Linked DNA regions of Homo sapiens: region 2 is linked to region 1. Evidence: fine-mapped expression QTL. A gene starts in region 1. The other region holds a variant in brackets. All regions are shown on one strand. Distances are between the middles of the regions.

Region 1 (5,000 bases):
CCTTATACTTCTGAATTAACCTAGACAAACCTTCTTCAAAAATGAAGACCAACATCGAAAACAAATGTAACTTCTCAGAGGTTAAAAAAAATAACAGTTGCTCACTGTCTTAAAATTAGAGCCTTGAAAAGCAAATACTATTAGCACAATTCCTCTCTCTGAAGGATTTTTAACATGTTCCAATTTATAAAATAACTTCTAGGATAGAAGGTAGTCAAAAAACAATCTAACTCAAGAAAGAAAAAGAAGTTATGCTGCACAGACCAACAATGTCCAAGCTCAGAAGAAAACAGACACAACCAAGGTTTTATGAGCCTAAAAGATGTTCATTTATGAAACACTAAGAACCAACTACTATAGCTCCATGTTCTGTTTGTTGCTTCGGCACCCTAACCCAACATTGAGTCTTCTAGCAACACATTCAAAATTTAAAAACTTCTTCCAGCCCAAGTTTCAATCCAGTTTAAGTTACAGGATGGCCTTCAATTTCCCTAAAAGGGAGGAAGATCAACTGCAAAATAATACAAAGTCGGACTCCAACTCACAGAGGTTAGTTGAAACTCATTTTTCCTATCACTGATCTATTACTTTTATTAAGTTTGATCAATCTGAACAGTCACTTGGCTATTAGGAAGTCATCTGAATAACTGAAAAACGGGTGGGGTTTTTTTGTTTTTGTTTTTTAATAGAGACGAGGTCTGGCTATGTAGCCCAGCTGGTCTGGAACTCCTGGGCTCAAGCCATCCTCCCACTTTGGCCTCCCAAAGTGCTGGGATTGCAGGAGTGAGCCACCACGCCCAGCCTGAGAAACTGTTCTACTGTCAAATTTCATGTCAACTTGAAAAAACTAGATTCCTGATGACTTACATCATCTCATAATCAATGCTCAACGTAGATCACACTTACAACTCAGTGTACATTAAGAACGAGGTGTTTACCAGGCTCACAGTCAGTTAACATGTTGATGCTATTCATTAACATAATTCCTTAAGTTCAGCTGCATCAGGTTACAAAGGTACCTTCAATTAAGGACTGTCAAGGCAGAGTCTGCAGCCTTGAAAGAGACCTTAATTAGTTTTGAGCTAAACATTACAGCAGGATAAATACAACTGTTCTTTATAGTTTAACTGCAGAGGTACTAGGGCTAGAGCTGGCTGTGGTCTAGTGATTCTCTCTAATTCATTACTCCATAATGCCTGGCTCTTCAGGCAGTTTTCCTTTACCCAAACGCTGGAAGCTCGGGAGGCGGTTGGCGGGGAGGGGGCGGGGGGGTGACATGCAGAAGTCCCTTATGTACTTCCTGAACAAAAATCCCACTTAAAAAGACCTGCAATCTGTAGCAAACTCCTAAACTGCTCCCCAGATAAAATAAAATCCAGATGCACCTGAGTTACCAGGCGCTGCACCTAAATTTTGCCAAAATGCCTTTTCTATAGAACATACTTGACACGCAGAAACGAGTGTTAATTATCTTTCAAATGACAAAATAAAAACCATCTTTTCGATTTCTTTGAATGCCCAGAAATAAACAACTTGTTTATTTTTCACTTAAGAACAAAGTTTAATTTTAAAACTACTGTCAATAAAGAGCCGAGCCAATTATCTAACTCAACACTCATTCATTGTCTCCATCTGTACAGGATCCACATGACTTTTAGGCCAGTCTTCTTACTACTACATTTCATCTAAATAGAAGCAGTGGTACTCCCTTCCTGCCAGCCCCCAGTTACTTAGCGAAAAGGAGAGTGGAACGTGTTGCACAGAAATCACACGCAAACATCCTACCTGACCGTGACACTGGGGCGAAAAAGCACAGATGCTACATTTTCATGCTAACTGTATGGGTCCACTCTCTCCTGATTCCAGTACAGTCAACCTGACACTCCTCAAGTTTCATATTCTCGCCCAAAAGGAGGCTGTCACCCTACGCCCTTGACAAGAAGTCTCGGGCAAAAAGTTCCCTTATTGCGACGGTTCCAGAACTCGCTTGCTTAGGAGACGGCCAAGGAAGCAGGGAGTTGGGAGCGCATGCGACCCCATGTGACTCGGGTCACCCAGCCAGGGTAGCGAGGTTCGGCCCACATCGCCCGAGCAGGGGATGGGGGTGAAGCGGCTAGGGCTGCTATTGGTGTTCCTGCCTCATCCGCAGCGGGGAGGACAGGAGAGGTCTGCCCACACCCCGAGGCAGCACCCAGCTCGCCCCACTTCCCTCTCGCAGGGGGAGAGACCAGGACGCGGTGGGGGGTGGGGGAATGGCCGTGACGCCCACCGGGGAGACAAGCGGGAGAGCAGGGCGACCCCGAGCATCCTCTCGCCCTGGGGCGCGAGGGCACCCCGGGCGGGCAGGGCCAGTTGCCGGGGCGCGCCCCCTTCCCGCCAGCCCGCCCGCCGGGCCCGTTCCTTCGCCAGCGACACAGCGGACCAGGGCGGTGCCCCGCCCCGCACCCGCCGCCGCCCCAGCCCCCCTGCCCTTAACCCCCGGCCCCCATTCCCGGCCCGGCACCTTTGATCACGTTGCTGTAGATGGTGGGGCGGAACTCCTCGCGCGCGCGCTGGTCGAAGTCCTGCCCGTGGATGATCCGCATCTGCTTCAGGAAGGTGGACTTGCCGCTCTCGCCCGCGCCCAGCAGCAGGATCTTCACCAGCCGCTTCACATAGGTCTTTTCCCGAGACAGGCATTTGTCGATCTCCTTGGACTTGCGTTGCTGCTCGGCCTCGCCACTCGTCAGCAGGCAGCCGGGGAAGCACACGGACAGCACGGACCGCGACGGCAGGAAGTCCGCCATCTTGCCGCCGCCGCCGCCGCCTCGGCGGGCCCCTCCGGCTCCCTCCACCTCCTCCTCCGGCGGCGGGCGGCTCCGGCACCGAGGCTCGAGGGCGGGGAGCGCGGCGGCGGCCCGAGCGCGCCCAGGGAGGGAGGGAACCAGCGAACTGACTCGCAGGGCGGGCCGGGCAGGGCGGGCCAGGACAGCGGGGGAGGGAGGGAGGGAAGGAGGGCGGGCCCGGCCCCGGAGGGGCGGTGGCCCCGGAGCGTGCGCGCTCCCGCTGCCTCCCGGAGGCGCGCTCGCACGCCGCGGCCGCTTCTCCGCCTCCCGCCCTGGGCGGCGAGTCACGAGCTCGATGTGTCGCTCGGGTGCCCGCGCCCGCAGCCGCGGCCGGGCGCGCGGGGAGGGCTGAGGAACCGCGGTCACGTGGGCCAGGCTGGGGAGCCCGACTTTCTGTTTCCCTTTCATGGCCTGAGCCCACTTGTGGGCAGAAGGGCTCCTTCCCCAAGGCCGGGAGGCCGGAGACCAGGTCCCGGACGCGGTTCTTTGGGCTCCCACTTAGCCTCCCTTTCTCCCGCGTTGCGCGCCCGCTGCCCGCTGTCACCGCCCACCCGACCCATTTCGAGGCCACGGACTCGAAAGTTATTCGAACAGAACAGCCGGCGTGAGCCTGGCAGGCCTTTGGTGCATTTTCTTTATTTCATTTTATTTTTTCTCTTTTGAGACGGAGTCTCACCCTGTCGCCCAGGCTGGAGTGCATTGGCTCGATCTCGACTCACTGCAACCTCCGCCTCCCAGGTTCAAGCCATCCTTCCGCCTCAGCCTCCCGAGTAGCTGGGAGTACAGGCGTGTGCCATCATACCCGGCTAAATTTTTTGTATTTATTTTTAGATACAGGGGCTCCCCCCTATGTTGCCCAGGCTGGTCTCGAACTCCTGAGCTCAAGCGATCCTCTAGCCTCGGCCTCCCACAGTGCGGGGATTCCAGACAGAGCCACCAGGCCCAGGCCTGGTGTGTTTTCTTAAAGTGACTCCCTTGACCTTCTAGTCTCCGAATCCCAGAACGGTAACCAGACGTCGTCCACCCCCACTTCCAGCTCTTTCTGGCATTTTCAGACCCCTACCAGGGCTCTCTGTGAGGGGAAAGAACTGGAGTTGATGTTCACTTGAGACGTGCTACCAGGGGCATTTAATGGCTCACTCGTGCATTCCACCTGGGCTGTGATGTGACTTCAGGGACGCTTGGCCGCGCCGGAATTAGCGAGTGGCAGCAGGAGGGTGAGGTCATGGTGAAAATCCCCTACACCGGACACTGTGATGTAGGCTCTTCCCAACAAGGAAGCAGATACACAAACACAACGAGGAATGGGAGCACGCAAATTTTAGCTTTCCTGCCAGATTACAGAGGATATGACCCGTCCAGGGACTTTTTTTCTGTCCTAACAGCAGATTCAGGCCAGGACACCTGAAAGGAGGCCAGGAGACAAGCCACAAGTGACAGCTGTGGGTTGGCAGAGAAACTGCTTAACCGGGACCCCCGAGAGCCGACCTCTTCATTCTTAGTATTTAGTTTCAAGTGGAAAAAGCCACTTTGGTCTGTCCCTGTTTTGGGCAATGCAACGTAGCTTTGGGCTCCTGTGGCTCAGAAACTTCGTATGTATAAGGGAGCGGAGGTAAGAGGTCAGCATTCCAAGAAACTCCCGAACAGGTTTAAATTTTAAAATCGGTACTAATCAGTTACTCCCTGGGGTTGGGTTAATGACCGAGAAGCCTCGACTCAGTAGATTGGCTGCAGTAAACAATGCCTGTAGTAGGATTATCTCCTGTGGCTCTGGCAAGCCCAGAGGGTGGACAACCTACAATATACAAGTAGAGTAGGCTCACCTCCAATATCTGTGGATTGATAAGAGTCAGAATCACTGAGCAGTGCTGTCAGGCAAAATATATGGTAAAAGCCTGCCCTGGATGGAGAATTTTTCCATCATCTCATCTAGTGTTTGGGAGGCCCTGTTCTCTAACCATGCAAGGACTCGCCTCTCCCAGGATTGGGGCATAGAACCTGTCCCCGAGCACTGTTTCTGCATTGACCCCAGGTGCTAATCTGAACTCCAACAAAGAGGAGAGAAACTTGTAAGTTAGGTAGTTAACATCTTTTTTCAGAAGTGTGTGTAATATAATGGAAAACCAAGAATGCCTAGGAGGCAGGAAGGTATTCCTGCCCAGCCAGTTCATGTCG
Region 2 (5,528 bases), 48 kb before region 1:
CCAAAGTGCTGGAATTACAGGTGTGAGCCACCAGCACCCAGGGAGGTTCATTGTTTTCAGAACAAAATTTCAACTAAGTCTGATGGTAAAATCAGCTAGTTAAATCCTACAAAGCTTACAAGAACTGGGGATTTTCCACGTAGAATAATGTGAAAGTAAAACGAAACAACTTTTTCTCCCCCCAAGGTCAGCAGTGCTTAGCCTTCAGTTCATCTTATGTTCTGTCTCCCCTTCAGCAGTTGGCAGGGGCAGAAAATCAAGCGTGTCTAAAGCGGCAGTCTAGGTCATTACGGAAGAATCATCGACTTTAAAAAAGACATGATAGCTTCTGTTTTCCTACCATGAACCTTCATGGGGAAAAGAAAAAGCAACATACTCCTCCACTCAGTATAAATGTTAATTCTGGACACAACTTCCCTCAGTATTCTTGTGGCAAACAGATAAGCTGAACACAGCCTCCTTGAATGGCTAATTTGTATCCCATACTTGTTTGAGCCTTTTGTTTTCTTGGTGTACTTCAAAGAAAAAGGAACACTGTGAAATATTCTTGCACAGCATTTTCGTGGATACCCCTTATGCCAACCACAATACCGTATTTCAGAGGCCCCACTAATTTCTGACGAAAAATTACATGTACTTTTATTTATTTACTTATTTATTTAGAGCCGGAGTCTCGCTCTGTTGCCCAGGCTGGAGTGCAGTGGCAAAATCTTGGCTCACTGCAACCTCCCCATCCCGGGTTAAAGTGATTCTCCTGCTTCAGCCTCCTGAGTTGCTGGGACTACAGGCACGTGCCACCACACCCGGCTAGTTTTTGTATTTTTAGTAGAGATAGGGTTTCACTGTGTTAGCCAGGCTGGTCTCGAATTCCTGACATCAGGTGATCCGCCAGCCTAGGCCTCCCAAAGTGCTGGGATTACAGGTGTGAGCCACCACTCCAGGCCTTTATTTTTATTTTAAATTTTTTTGAGATGGAGTTTCGCTTTGTCACCCAGGCTGGAGTGCAGTGGTGCGATCTTGGCTCATTGCAACCTCTGCTTCCCAGATACAAGCAATTCTCAGTACAGGCGCCCGCCACAGGTCTGGCTAATTTTTGTATTTTTAGTAGAGACGTGGTTTTACCATGTTGGCTAGGCTGGTCTTAAACTCCTGACCTCAAGTGATCCGCCCACCTTAGCCTCCCAAAGTGCTGGGATTACAGGCGGGAACCACCACGCCTGGCCTATAGCATGTATTTTAAAACACTGCCCTGGGCCATCTGCTTTTTGAGGATTTGCCAAATTTCCCAAGTCACCAAAACAGACCTCTAGTTTAACCTGTAAACCTTGAGTTTCCTATATTCTCAGGACCAAAAAGTCTCCCTTTTCGTTTTCAACAACCCACTCTGTGGGCAATGAAACAGGTCATTTTGGGAGAGCATCCTGTACTGACATGACATCCCACAGTGCCAATTAACCAGGATTGTGCCCACTTTGCTACACAATAGTTTGTATTGTTTCTTTTTACACAGATAAATATTCCCTTGTTCCAACAACAGCATAAAAAAGGTGTTTTTGTTTTTTAAATGACCTCTTGGTTTGTTTGGGGATTCAAATGCTCAAGTGAGTCTAGTTTCAATTTTTAAAGATCTTAAATCTCTCCCAGAAAGACCTGTTTCCAAAGTCACAGATTTTTAGATGTTAAGAGTTAGACTCAAAGTCCAAATTTTCTAACCCAGTTTCTCTTGAGATCAACAGTAACATTTCATGTTAGAGGTGAGAACCTGGAGAAGAATTTTTATTTGCCAGAGAGGTTGGAACCAGAGCAGCTAGGAGCACAGCCAGCCATTACCTCCAGCCATTTCCTCACACCTGCTTTGCAACACCAAGAGAAAGCCCTTCATTCTGTTTAGGGGAAGAACAGTACAAGCACAGCTTTATCTATCTGTCTGTCTATCTATTTACTTAGAGACAAGGTCTGGATCTATCACCCGGGCTGGAGTGCAGTGGCGCGATCTTGGCTCACTGCAACTTCCACGGCCTCCCGAGTAGCTGGGGGACTACAGGCCCATGCCACCATGCCCACCTAATTTTTGTAAAGACGGGATTTCACCATGTTGCCCAGGCTGGTTTCAAACTCGTGAGCTCAAGTGATCCGCCAGCCTTGGCCTCCCAAAGTGCTGGGATTACAAGCGTGAGCCACCACGCCCAGCCATAGCTTTCAATACATGCCAGGTAAGAAAAGGCATAAAGATGCCAAGTGATTTGACAACTGCTAACTTAGCAGGAAAGCGTAAAGGGAAAAGATGAGTAGTAACCACAGAAGGTGTGCTTGACACGATTTGATAATGATACTTTCTCTCTCTGGTTCCCAGACCCATAACCCAGTCTAATCATGTGAAAAACACCAAATTTCAACAGATGGGCATTCTACAAAATACCTGACCAGTACTCCTCAAAACTGCCAAAGTCCTCAAGCCT[C/G]TAATCCCAGCAATTTGGGAGACCGAAGCAGGCAAATCGCTTGAGCTCAGGAGTTCCAGACCAGCCTGGGCAACATGGCGAAACTCTGTCTCTACTAAAAATACAAAAAGTAGCTGGGTGTGGTGGCACGCACCTGTAATCCCAGCTACTTGGGTGGCTGAGGCAGGAGAATCACTTGAACCTGGGAGGTGGGGGTTGCAGTGAGCTGAGATCGGGCCACTGCACTCCAGCCTGGGTGACAAAGGAGTGAGACCCTGTCTCAAAAAGAAAAAACAAACAAAAAACACCTGCCAAAGTAATCAAAAACAAAGTCTGAGATAAACAGGAGTCTGTTAACTACCAAGAAGAGCTGAAGGAGACATGACGAGCGAATGTAATGTCGTGTGCTGGATGGATCCTGGAACACAAGTAAGGCATTAGGGGAAAACTAAGGAAACAAGAACAAAGCATGGGCTTTAGTGAATAATGTTATCAGTATTGGTTCATTAATTATGACAAATGTACCAAAGTAATGCAAGGCGGTAACTACGGGAACTATTATAAGGGGTGTGGAGTATAGGGGAACTCTGTACTGTCTTGAAATTTTTCTGTAAATCATAATCTAACATGAAGTTTATTTTTTTAAAAAAGATGAGTGGTCAATGTTGGTTTGTCTCCAAACATTAATTACAACAGACGTAACAGAATTATTAATATTGTCGCAGCTGGATGAACTGAGCTCAGGTACACCCTAATACAGTTTCAGTGGCCATAAGAGGAGCAGAGAAAACAAGTGGTTTCTCTTCCCCTATTCCCTTGTCAAAACATATTAAGTGTCTGAGAACTTCCTTGGAAGAAGTCCACATCTCCATTTCTAGTAAGAAGTTTCTAGACTAATATTCAAGCCAAGTGGCATTGGGATTCTGCTGAAGTAGATTTGTGCCTTAACTCAGGCCCTAGATGAAACTTTTGCTTTCAAACTTTTAGTATCTGCTTTACATTTTACAATTACCAAACTGTTAAATAACATCATAGTATTGAATTGTTTACAAATGTTTATTAAATGTCAGTAATTTTTACAAAGCAAATATTAATAGCAAGAGGCAAATGTTTTGCAAAATATGTACAAAAGTAAAAAGCTGTAATGAACTAGCAACTCATTTTATAAAATCAAACCATTCTTTCCACTTTTAGACCTCCTTTAGAAATAATTTATTGCCCATCCTGAACTAAAGCACTGACAAAAAAATTTACAACAATTATCAGATAATGTGCTTAGTTCCTGGAAAGTTATAAAAAGATATATGTAAAAAAAAAATCCTAAGCCACAAATATTTTATAGAGCTAATACGAGTCATGTTTTGTTAGGTACAGTATCTACGGGGTTATTACAAAATATACTTTTTTATAAGGCTTCTTGTGGTAAATGAGCTCTCACCAGAGTAGAGTAGTTTAGAAAAGCCATTTCAAACGTTTTGCGATTCTGCCTTCAAGTAAGAGGTAAAAGGTAAATGGCATAGTTTGTTGCACTGTTGCTTATACTGTGCAAGAATTAATCTCTACCCCTTTCTTTCCTAGTACCATCAAACAGGCATGATTAAGGACAATTTCTCACTTACTATGGCAAAAAATATTATATACAAGCTTTCTTAACACAAACCAAAGTCACATACCAAGTAGTATATGACGTTCAGTGATATTCACTGACTGAAATTTTATGCACACTGAGTTCCAGCATACTCTGATCCACCTGTAAACTTTCATCATCAACAGCAGATTTGTATATGTCACAAAACTCTCCTTATCAAGACATAAAATATTGCCATATCATTCATGCTTTCAAAACAATGTTCATATAAGCTCTCGCATTTGAAACCAGATGGTAAGACCTGAATGCTACAAGAGTGAACATAACTTAAATGCTAACTACACGTTCAAGTACAGACATAAGAATGCTAGTGGTACAAACACTGTACTCCAAATGATGTTGTTAATCACCTACCAGCCTAAGACTAGTATCTACTTGATGGAACTTGAAAAAGCCATAAAGTCCAACTTGTTTAAAATGTTCAGACTTAGACTTACACTTCAAGATCTAGTATACATTTATTAATAAGCCCTAACCTCGTACCATAAAAAAATGGGCATGTGCTGTATTTGGGACATGCGGACACACCCACACCCACCCACAATCTCTCCCCTCCTCATGTTTACTAGACTGAAAAGCCACCCTGTATCCTATCATTAAAAAACAAAACAAAACAAAACAAAACAGTGCTTTTAGTCAAGCAGCACAACACAAGGACAGATCATCTGTGATTAACAGAAGCGAACGCCTTAAAATGATGGGAGAGAGACAAATTAACTAGGTACTAAGTCAGATTTCCAAGTGAAAAAGACATGAGCAAAACTTCTGGTCTTAATTTCTCAAATAAAACTAAAATAAATGAAATGGTAACAGAGTGACTTTCTCTAAATTTATTAGGGAGTTTGTTACAAATGTTTGGGCTTTACAGGCATGATTTCACGGATTCAAACAAGAAATTAACACTGATATTTAGCCTTCTCATGACATACACAGAAATAACATTGCTACAAACTGCAATGGAGAGAATCTTGTTTCAAATGGCTTAGTTTGGGGTTTTGTCTAAATGTATCATTATATAATGAAAGCACCAATTTGAGGGTTTCTCAAATAGTGATTTGAATTTTAGGACATAACAGTGTAACATGGTAACTTTATTCTTCATATATAAATAAGGCATAATCGGATGTGTATTAATGCTGAAAATACATTTTATCAAAAGCATAAATACAAGTATTTGGGTACACATTGAAAGTTAGGACTTAACCAATTTCTTCTTACAAAAAATGATAAGGACATATGGTATTTGTTGAATCTAAATCAGCACTTCTAATCATTTCTGGTATTAAGGCGATCTTATTTCCTTCTACTTTAAACCAACCACTGCCACCAACTGAATAAGGATTTCCCTAAACAGCCTCAATTTGAGAGACTAACCAGAGGACCTTCTCTATGCAAATTACATGCCAATACACCTTAAAAGAAAATAAGACAAAAGTGAATGA

Which allele goes with the higher level. Alleles are on the strand shown, and positions count from the first base shown. SD is a standard deviation of normalised expression in the study named.
With allele C in place of G in region 2, the expression in tibial artery of the gene that starts at base 2,933 in region 1 is higher (small effect, 0.38 SD a copy in GTEx).

Evidence for each region. PIP is the estimated chance that this variant, and not a neighbour inherited with it, causes the effect.
Region 2: its variant is the best candidate, but not a certain one, in a credible set for the expression of GNA13 in tibial artery (GTEx, PIP 0.52).

What each region holds. Positions count from the first base shown.
Region 1 is chr17:65,053,808-65,058,807 of GRCh38, forward strand. GNA13 (G protein subunit alpha 13) reads right to left here and starts at 2,933. Exons shown (of 4, transcript NM_006572.6): 1 at 2,504-2,933. The coding sequence starts at 2,786. RefSeq lists silencers at 2,171-2,430, 2,711-3,220.
Region 2 is chr17:65,005,814-65,011,341 of GRCh38, forward strand. GNA13 (G protein subunit alpha 13) reads right to left here. Exons shown (of 4, transcript NM_006572.6): 4 at 3,476-5,528. Among named protein-coding and RNA genes, the nearest start is that of GNA13, 48 kb to the right of the region's middle. The variant C/G (reference allele first, on the strand shown) is at 2,460.